Linked DNA regions of Homo sapiens: region 1 is linked to region 2. Evidence: fine-mapped QTL for protein levels in blood plasma. A gene starts in region 2. The other region holds a variant in brackets. All regions are shown on one strand. Distances are between the middles of the regions. Region 1 overlaps KIAA0319. Region 2 holds the start of KIAA0319.

Evidence for each region. PIP is the chance, under the fine-mapping model, that this variant and not a neighbour inherited with it causes the effect. The UK Biobank Pharma Proteomics Project read protein levels with antibody pairs (Olink). The fine-mapping took linkage between variants from a reference panel, not from the people measured, so its PIPs are less certain.
Region 1: its variant is fine-mapped to the plasma level of the KIAA0319 protein (UK Biobank, PIP above 0.99).

Annotation. Positions count from the first base shown.
Region 1 is chr6:24,617,985-24,623,360 of GRCh38, forward strand. All of the region lies in intron 1 of KIAA0319, which reads right to left. Among named protein-coding and RNA genes, the nearest start is that of KIAA0319, 26 kb to the right of the region's middle. The variant T/C (reference allele first, on the strand shown) is at 2,417.
Region 2 is chr6:24,644,159-24,649,534 of GRCh38, forward strand. It overlaps KIAA0319, which reads right to left and starts at 2,033. Exons shown (of 21, transcript NM_014809.4): 1 at 1,578-2,033. RefSeq lists a silencer at 1,878-2,087.

The DNA of each region.
Region 1 (5,376 bases), 26 kb before region 2:
TCAAAGGAAAATGAAAATAAAAATAATAAAAATAAATATAAGAAATAGAACCTCGTTCATGAAGGGTAGACCAGAAAAAAAATTTGGCCACTGGGCTCTGTATGCAGATAAACTTCTCCTTCAAGAATTGGCAACCATAGGTTTGCTTAACATAAGTTTGGGCTTGGCTTTTCATTACTAGTTTGGCTTAATAAACCCCAGGGGGAGAAATTAACTTAAAGTTGTCCTGAGTTGTCAGTGCCACAGGTACTTGGCAGAGGCAATTATAAATTCCTTCTGGAAGAAGTTTTCTCAACCCCAGAGAGAACCTAGACAAACCAGAACGTACAATTCAAAATTACAGGCCAAGTAGAATGACTCACAGTTATAACCCCAACACTTTGGGAGGCCAAGGGAAGAGGACTGCTTGAGCCCAGGAGTTTGAGACCAGCCTAGGCAACATAGTGAGATGTCATCTCTATTAAAACTTAAAAAAAAAAATTAGCCAGGCATGGTGGTGTGCACTTGTAGTCCCTGCTACTCAGGAGGCTGAGGTGGGAGAGTTGCCTGAGTTGAGGCTGCAATGAGCCATGATCACACCACTGCACTCCAGCCTGGGCAACAGAGCAAGACCCTGTCTCAAAAGAACAAAACACCCCCAAACAACAACAACAACAAAAACACACAAAAAGTACAAAACACACAGGCAACACAAAGAAAAGCAACAGAAAAGAAAGACAAGAGTATTAGGTCCCAAAGATTTCAGATAATGGAATTCTGGCATATAAATATAAAATGAAATGTTTAAAAAAAAAAAGTAGTAGCAAGGTACAAGACTAAAAGAAAAAAAAAGATCCTGGCAGATTTGAAAAATAACCAAGCACAACTTCTAAAAACAAAAAGATTTTTGCTATTAAAAGCTCAATGGATGGGCTAAATAGCAGATTAGACACTGCTGAAGAGAGAATTTTTGAACTTAGAAGGTCACATTTGAGCAAAGACTTAGGAGAGATGAGGGAGTGAATCATGTGGACAGCTGAGAGGAAAGAGTTCCCAGGCAGAGGGAAAAAGAAACACAAAGGCTTGAGGCGGGGAATGTGCCTGTGTATTGCAGGAACAGCAAGAGGGTCAGCATCGCTAGAAAAGGGAAAGCACTAGAAGGTCAGGGTGGGGGACAATGGGAGGCTGTATTATAGGTTAGTATGAAGGATCTTTGGCTTTCACCATGAAACTGGAAATGTTTCAGGATTAGCTCCCTCGGGCTTCTGCGTTGAAAAGAGAGTATAGCAATCAAAGGCAGAAATGGAGAGACAAGTTAGCAGCTTCGGCAATAATCCAGGTGAGAGGACGGTGTCTTGCACCAAGGTGATAGTAGTGAAGGCCCTGAGGAGTCAGAGCCTTGATTTATTTTAAGGTAGAGCATATAGGATTTGCTGATGGATAAGATGTAAGGTGTGACACAAAAACAAGAGTCCTAGATGACTCTGAGCAACTGGAAGAATGGGGTTGTCATTCTCCAAATGCAAGAGATATCTAAGTGGAGCTGCTGAATAGGCCACAGGATAAATACGTCCAGGGTTCATGGGAGAGAGGGCTGGAGACATACACTGGGAGGCATCATTGTGTAGCTGGTATTCAAAGCCACAAGACTGGTTAACACCACCAAGAGAGTGAGTGACAATGGAAAAGGAATGTTCATGCTTGAGGGATGAACTTGAGTAGAAAGAGTGAAAATGCACGAGGGGGGAAATGGCCTATTTTCAAAATATTCCATGAATATGTCTCACCTAGTCACATGCATCTGCAGAGAGACCTTAAGGTGCAAGGGGGAGAAACTTAAAATAAAACAGTGCCTTCTGATCTTGAGAGTGCCATATTTTGCTGCAGCAGGCGTGCAAATCACACTATAGCAATTCCCTCGCTGCTTCAGCCAGAGCAAACCAAATATAGTTCCAGCCTGACTAAAAAGTGCCGACCATCTGAAATGACAATCACATGGATCCCATTCGCTGTTCATTCTAACACTGCTGGATTAATTGGCCTAAAATCCTGTTTTGTGTTTCCTTGGTCAATAATATGCTACTGAAAATAAGTTAGCAATTTATTTTCAATATATTTTGCCAATATTGGTCGGGAGTAGTGGAGTCAAGCTTCCTGAACTTGATATTCAGACATGAAAAAAGTATGCAAAACTGCTTCACAAATTTTTTTAAAAATCATTTTTGTCACCTGGACTGTGGCACTCCAGAACTTGGTTTTAATCTTAGCTAAGAAGATCCCAAACATGAGGCCTCTTCAATTTTTATATATAAAAAAAGGAAATGCTGACTATCCCTAGTTGTGTTTTTGTTTTTTGAGACGGAGTCTCACTCTGTCGCCCAGGCTGAAGTGCAGTGGCATGATCTCAGCTCACTGCAACCTCCACCTCCTGGATTCA[T/C]GCAATTCTTCTGCCTCAGCCTCCCAACTAGCTGAGATTACAGGTATACACCACCACGTCCGGCTAATTTTTATATTTTTAGTAGAGACGGGGTTTCACCATGTTGGCCAGGCTGGTCTTGAACTCCTGACCTCAGGTGATTTGCCTGCCCCGGCCTCCCAAAATGCTGGGATTACAGGCATAAGCCACTGCTCCCGGCCCCATACTTGTGTTTTTGCTTTTTTTCTATCTTCAATCTTTCCCTAAAGACAACTGTATTAGTCTGCTCAAGCTTCCATAAAAAGAAAAAAGTACTATAGAGTCGGTGGCTTAAATAACGGAATTTATTTTCTCAAAGCTCTGGAGGCTTGAAGGGAGTATGCTAATTCTATTGGATAAAGGCCCCACCCTTATGACCTCATTTAAATTTAATTACCTCCAATAAAGTCTTTACCTCCAAATATAGTCACAGGGGTTGGAGCTTTTAACATATGAATTTTGGGAGACACAAACATTCATTCTATAATAGCACCTATGCGTATGCCTAGGAATGCAGCTGACTTCCTACTGCCAATTCAAAATAAGAAACAGAAACTATGTGGTATCAGCCAGGGTGGGCATGGAAGAAAACTGAGAAGCATACAGTCACACCTACTTCCCTTTTAGGGAGTCCCTGTCACATCCTGCTCATCCTCCCATCATCTCCCTTCCATTATGTTTCCACAAACCCAAGCTTCCAAATGAAGGTGTTGGCTGATATTACTTATTTAAGCCTCAAGGTCTTATTCTTTCTTAGGACGTTAGCATTTTCATCTGGAGATTCCTGAAGACAAAAAGGTATTTCAGGTACCTTTGACAGATGATGGTATGGGAGATATTTGGGAGATGGGCGAGTATCTTATGGTTCTCTACTCATAGTTCCTTAACACACTCACTTTATTATTGAAGCTTGAGAGAAGCAGGGTGTTGCAGCAACAGACCAAGCCCCCAAGTGTTCATTAAAAAGAGAATTGAGCTCTCTAAAGAGGCAGATCATGGAGACAAGAACCACCATTATTCCAGGGGACATCCAGAGACACAGCCCACACAAAAAATATATTCATATTAATCTATCTGGGAGGAAATTGGCATCATTAAGAAAATCTTGGAAAGCTCAAAATAAAAAAGAAAACTTTCTAGTTCAATATGGCAGATAGATGTATATCCAGCTCTCCTCTTTCCTGTGCATGGTCTTACTGGGGGGAAAAACTGTGAGGGGAGGCAAACAGGACATAAGAACAGACAAAAGAAAATAAACCATAACAACACAGGAAAATAAGAATGGACATCATTAATAGACCAATCATTTCAAAGAATTCCTGGAAGATAGAAAGCAGATGGCATGGCTCTGACTGGAAAGGAAGAGAGGAAACTCATTTCCTAGAAAAAGGAAGAACAGCACTTTTGGTGACAGCACTGGAGAAGCTCCAAGCCCTGAGCCAATGGATGCAAAGAGACAGAACCGGCCAAGGCACAATCGTTGGGGTGATCACCAAACGAAAAACAGATCTCAAGCTAAAGCCAGAGAACTGCTCTCTCAAGAGACGGAGATCTACCTCCATGGGGCCCTGGTGGCAGCACTGGGCCTGGGAGAAAAGGAGAGTCAACAGAGTCTGCGAATGCACAGCTCTGCCCTGGAATGAAATCTACTTTATTCTGAAGCACCACACCTCTAGGCAGAGCTCTCCTTCCAGTGGCTGCCTGGGGAGTGCTCACCCGTACACCCCAGAGGGAAACCTGACCAGACACCTCCCACTCATGCACTCAGATGCCACAGCAAGCCTCACATGAATCAATGAGTGGACAGCTACGTCAGAAAGCAGCCAAGTATCCTGATCAGTGGAGCCCCTCACAGATCAAAAGGAACAGGCAACCAAGGACTGCTAGACATTTGAGAAATTAAAAAAAAAAAAAAAAAAGAACATGAAAAAGAAAGGCTATGATAAACAAATAGAAGATTAAAGGAACAAAGAAAAACTTTAAACCACAATTAATATCAATAATTAAAATAGTAATTAGTATCTTTGGAAAAATTTGAAAGGATATTGCCTCCATAAAACAAAAATAGGCTGCTACAAATGAGGGGCAAAAATCAGAGAACAAGAAAAATTATTGGAAATTCAAAATAGGATTGTTAAAATTAAAACCTCAGTGAACAAGTGGAATAACTGTTGATAATGCTAGCAGCTAATATATATTAAGTACCTCCTATGTGTTAGGCCCAGGATCTGTTCTTCGCATTTTAAACATCCTAACATACCTAATAATCAAACTAACCCAGTGAGGCAGGTACTATTATTCTCCCCATCTCACAGGTGAGGAAACAGAGTTAAAGAGATTAATGGCTGGGCACGGTGGTTCACACCTGTAATTTTAGCACTCTGGGAGGCCGAGGCGAGAGGATCACTTGAGATCAGGAGTTCGAGACCAGCCTGGCCAACGAAACCCTGTCTCTACTAAAAATACAAAAATTAGTCGGACATGGTGGCAGGTGCCTGTAATCCCAGCTACTCGGGAGGCTGAGGCAGAAAAATTACTTGAACCCAGGAGATGGAGGTTGCAGTGAACAGAGATTGTGCCACTGCACTCTAGCCTGGGCAACAGAGTGAGGCTCCATCTCATTAAAAGAAAAAAAAAAGAGAGAGAGAGAGAGATTAAGTCACTTGCTCAGACAGCTAAAAATTAGCTAAGTCAGAATTCAAAGTCAAGCTATCTGGCTCCAGAACACCTGTTCTACGTGGCTGAAGGCAAGTTACAGATTTGAAAGGTAGATGTGAGGACATTCCCCTAGTGTGCACATGAACACAAACACACACATACACGCACACACACAAAGACAAAGGAAAAGAAAATATGGGGCAATGTTAGAAGGCATAGGGGAGAGTCCAGAATTTTCATCATCTAGCTAAGAGGCATTATAGGAAGAAAGAACAGAGACAATA
Region 2 (5,376 bases):
GCATATGTCTACATGGTCCCCGTCTGAGTGAGTGGGTGTGTCTGTGAAAGTGCACCCTGTGATGGGATAGCTTCCTGGACAGGGGAGAGGGGGGGGTTCCCACTCTGAACCAGGGAGACTCTGGCTACCCATGACCTTGAACTGTAATAATTGGGTAAATAATGATCTTGTTTTTACTAATCCTTCTTAACTGTATGTATAGATCCCATTTATTTCTATGTTTAATATTAGAAGTGTTGTGGTCTTTATTTAGAAGTTTGGTGATTTTTTTATGACCAGAAATATGCTGTAGGAACTTAACTCTTGTTTATATCAATTAGCCTGTGGTAAAATTGGTTTCCTTATACCTCGTTGTGCTTAAAGGTTCACAGTTTCCAAGAACGTATCAAGAATGTTAAGTGAGGACTTACTGTATTTATTTAAAGAGAATGCTTCCTATCTATTGGCTAGGGAAAAAAAAAAAGTCAAGAAAATTTAACAGCAACTCTATTCTTTTACATTCATACATTACCAAAGCTCTCTTTTGGCTATTTTTAATTCATAAAGATTTTGGCTGAATTATTTTCATTATTTCGAAACAAAAATTAAGTTCTTGCCTCGGCATTTTGCATTACAAATGCAAATGCATTACAAATGGTTAATACAAATAAATCAGAGTACTTAGGTAATATGTTTACATTTCCCTTTTTCAAATTACAGAGGAATTCACCTTTCTCTGTGACTCCTACGTCTATAACTGAACTGACACCTCCAGTTTTCCTCATCTGAATTAAAAATAATACTAAAAAAAGCACAAAATAAAAGTTTAGATTTGGCATAACTTTAGTAGTCTCTACAATTGTGGTCTTCTTATAATAAATTGAAGCATTTGGAAAGTGAGCATGTATTTCAGGAATAAAGAAATAAATACCAACATTTACTTCCAAAATTCTTGTGTGTGGGGGGGAACATTGTCTACAATTTATTTTTTCTGTTACTATCAAAAACATCATTCAACTTTTCAATTCAAGCAGTGGAAAAAATACTAACATTTCACCGACAAACAAAAATGTTTTGATGAACAAACCAGCAATAAAAGTGCACATGAGTATGTATATCATATTTTTCCTCCTTGTATTTAATTAACAAATGACCTTAAGATGATAACTCTCAAAATTTCAGGTTTATCCTCCCGATTAATTTGTGACATTCCTTGGAGGGAATTCAAAGGGAAGAAGAGAAAGATTTTAAGCTTCAGGTTATGGTAAGGAACAGAGACAAAATGCATTTAGCAAATAATAGGAAAGATCACATAAATAGTTCTGAATGAAGTTTAAAGAAAACGATTCCTTACTTCTAAAAAAATGCAATTCGTGAGGTTGGGAAAAGACACTCAAATTTCCCCGACTCCACCCTACTAGTCAACAATCAGTGCAGCAATCAAAAAATGCCCTTTCCTGAATGCCCAGAAGAATCTTAAGAAACTCACCTTCTGAACTCAGGGCGTCTCGATTCTACTTTTGTTGGGTATTGGCCTGCCTACTGGCTGCCCTCTTTCCTATTTCTCGGCCAGGCGCTCTGGGAAGTAGATACCGTACCTGTGGTCACTGCTGGCGACACTGAAGCTCGCCCCATGCGTTGCTGCTGGCCCTGAGCATCACTCGCCGTCCCACTTGTTCCTCCTCGTCGTCATCGCAGGTCTTACACACACACACACACACACACACACACACACACACACACACACACACGTTCACACCCTCGCGCGCGCACCTGCTGTTAAGAGGTACAGCCCCACCCCAGCAAAATCCTCGCTTCCTCTTCCCCGGGACGTAGCCCCAGAGGAGCGAATCTGGACCAAGCCCAAGACAGGCTGAAGCTACTGCTGCGCTCTCACCTCCGGCAGTGACAGCGAGCGCCGCCGCCGCTCTGCGCGGGGCCAGCCAGGCCCGCCGAGGGCAGCACAGGTGGAGCAAGGTTGCACCCCCGGGGGATCCCCGCCCACCGCCCGCGGCAGCTTCTGCAGGCTCGGGGAAAGCGCGCGCCAGTGATTCAGCGCCTTTCCGCCGCCGCGGTTACCACGGCGACGCGCGCGCACGCGCACACACGCCCTCAGGGATGTGGGGCGCGGCAGCCGCCCCTGCCCAGCTCCCCTGCTCAGCTCCCCTGCTCAGCTCCCCGGTTGCGCTCTAAGTACCCGCACCGGGGCGACACACTCCCACCCCGCAGGGGACCAAGCAAAAGTCTTTCGTGAACCTGAGCGGCCTTCATACCCTACCTGCTTTCCTTCACCAAGCCCTTCCCTGTCACCGTGGCCCTAAACAGTCTGGGGGATGAACACTCCTTCCAAATAAACACCCGGGCCAGGGTGGCTCAAGGGAGCCGTGGGTGCACTGCCTGGGTCAAACACCCTTCGCGAATGTGTCCCCCAGCTTGTCCCCAGCTTGTGTCACCCCAGCTACACAAGTTCCATTCTTCCAGTGGGAGTCTCTTTGGCCCCTACTCTGTAATTATCTTTCTATTTTGAGCAGGTGCTTTCTGACTGAGACTGGGAACCTGTGCTAGGAGGGGCTCCCATCACCTCCAGGCCTTGCAGGTTAACTGGATGCCCAGTATAGTTTGACATTTGCATCTTGAGGAACGTGATAATCTAAACCACAGAAAACTTGGGTGGAAGACTCTTGCATTTTTACTGTTTTAATAAAGATGCGAAAGCATCTAGGGATAATATCATGAGCAGAAAAGGTAGCCAGGGCATTCCTCGCACATCTCATTACTAGGAGGTATAAGTGCAGTGCTTAGGGCTGAGTCACACACTGTTGATGAATAAGCTTCTTGGCTACTCGTATTTACCGAAGAGCCTCAGACAAGTTACCTAATCTAGATAAACCTGTTTCCTCAATTATAAAATGAAGATAATAGCATTCATATAGGATGATTCTGGGAATCAAATAAGATAATGCACATTTAAAGAGTAAAAACCAGCTGGGTGCGGTGGCTCACGCCTGTAATCCTAGCACTTTGGCAGGCCGAGGCGGGCGGATCACGAGGTCAGGAGATCGAGACCATTCTGGCTAACACGGTGAAACCCCCGTCTCTACTAAAAATACAAAAAATTAACCGGGAGTGGTGGCCCGCGCCTGTAGTTCCAGCTACTTGAGAGGCTGAGGCAGGAGAATCGCTTGAATCCAGGAGGCGGAGGTTGCAGTGAGCCGAGATCGTGCCACTGCACTCCAGCCTGGGCGACAGAGCAAGACTCCGTCTCAAAATAAATAAATAAATAAATAAATAAATAAATAAATAAATAAATAAATAAATAAAAACTAAAGAGTAAAAACCTGTCCAGGACTCAAAGAGTGAAAATCAGCTTGGACTTGGAAAAGTTAGTACTGCCAATGATCAATGATCAGGCTGAGAGGACAAAGTCAGAAGCAAAATTAACAGGCAATGTTGTTTCCTCTGAAGTCACGCAGCAGGTACAAAACAACACAACTCCTTGTGTTCCATTTTTGAATGACTACTACTTTCTACCTTTGCTTTACTATTCCCATCCATAACTGGGGATACCCAATTGCTAAACTCCCTTCACCTCCTGACAGCACCCAATCCCTCATTAATCCCCCTTTCTCTCAATCTGCCTCAGAAACAGCAACCAACTGGATCCCAGCTCTGATTCCAAGACTCTCCCTGGAATCCTTTAATAGGAAGCCAAATCTTTACAAAAGACACTTCCTCCTTTCTGTGCTCACATGGCATTCCACAGGTACTCTTTCAATGCATCAAGCCAATGAATCTGATTTTGTCCCCAACGATCCTTGGCTGATTAGCCTTTAAAGAAACATATTTTTAGCACATACACACACACACAGGCTTAGCCCAGAATGTTTAACTATACCATCTTTTTAACTCAGAGACACTGTAATGAATATCTATTTTCATTTTTAATGAATATATCTATTTTGGTATTGTATGAAAATGTTAGTCTCCTTCTTTAGGACACAGATGTGAGGCTACTACCTTTCACTTCTTTTCAGCATTCAGTGGACATCCATTGAGCTCCTACTATATGCCAGACACTGCAAGAGGTAGTAAGGATAAAATGATGTATCCTTAGTATAATTAACTTTGTCTGCTCTTGCTTATGCTTTTGGTTGGGACATTTGTACAATAAAAGATAACTTATTTTGAGGGTGGGTAAAACTGAGGTTTAGGAAGGTTAAAGTACATTCCACATCAGTGGTAAAAATGGTGCTTAGCGTAATGACAGTGCTGCCTCATTGAAATACAAGACTTTAGGCCACGTACAGTGGCTCATGCCTATAATCCCAGCACTTTGTGGGCGAGGCAGGAGGATTGAGTGAGCCCCGGAGTTCGAGGCCAGCCTGGGCAACATAGCAAGATCCTCTCTGTACAAAAAACAAAAACAAATAAAAAGTAGCTGGGTGTGTGGTGCACACCTGTAATCCCAGCTACCCAAGAGTCTGAGGCTAGAGGATCACTTGTGCCCAGGAGGTTGAGACTGAAAAAAAAAAAAAAAAAAACCCAGAAGATTCTATGTTGGAATTTCACTAAGCAGGAAGGTAAGGCAAGCAAAGCTACTACACTGGAAAAACTTTGAAAAATTCCAAGTAAAAAACTCAAGATATAGCAAATTAGTAGGTTAATTCATTGATAACTATTGCTCATGAAAGCAGACTAAAAGTGGTTTTTTTTGAGACAGTCTTGCTCTGTCGCCCAGGCTGGAGTGCAGTGGCACGATCTCGGCTTACTGCAACCTCCGCCTCCCAGGGTCAAGTGATTCTCCTGCCTCAGCCTCCTGAGTAGCTTGGATTACAGGCACGTGTCACCACGCCTGGCTAATTTTTGTATTTTTAGTAGAGATGGGGTTTCACCATGTTGGCTAGACGAGTCTTGAACTTCTGACCTCAGGTGATCCACCTGCCTCGGCCTCCCAAAGTGCTGGGATTACAGGCATGAGCCACTGCACCCAGCCGATAATCCTTTATTTAATCTAGTATACTACACTGTATTTTTTTTTTAAGAATTTAGACTTTCACCCATCTATGTTTTGCAATGTGATCTGAAGTTCTAACTTAGCTCTTCTAAATGAAAGCAATTTATGCCAGAATAACCCTTTTCCCACAGAAATGTACTATTGTATTACCTCTATGATGTATGCTACTCTACTATTAACATCTATTCTCATTTTTTATTTTATTTTTGAGATGGAGTCTCACTCTGTTGCCCAGGCTGGAGTGCAGTGGCACGATCTTGGCTCACTGCAAGTTCTGCTTCCTGGGTTCGTGCCATTCTCCTGCCTCAGCCTCCTGAGTAGCTGGGACTACAAGCACTCGCCATCACGTCCGGCTAATTTTTTGTATTTTTAGTAGAGACAGG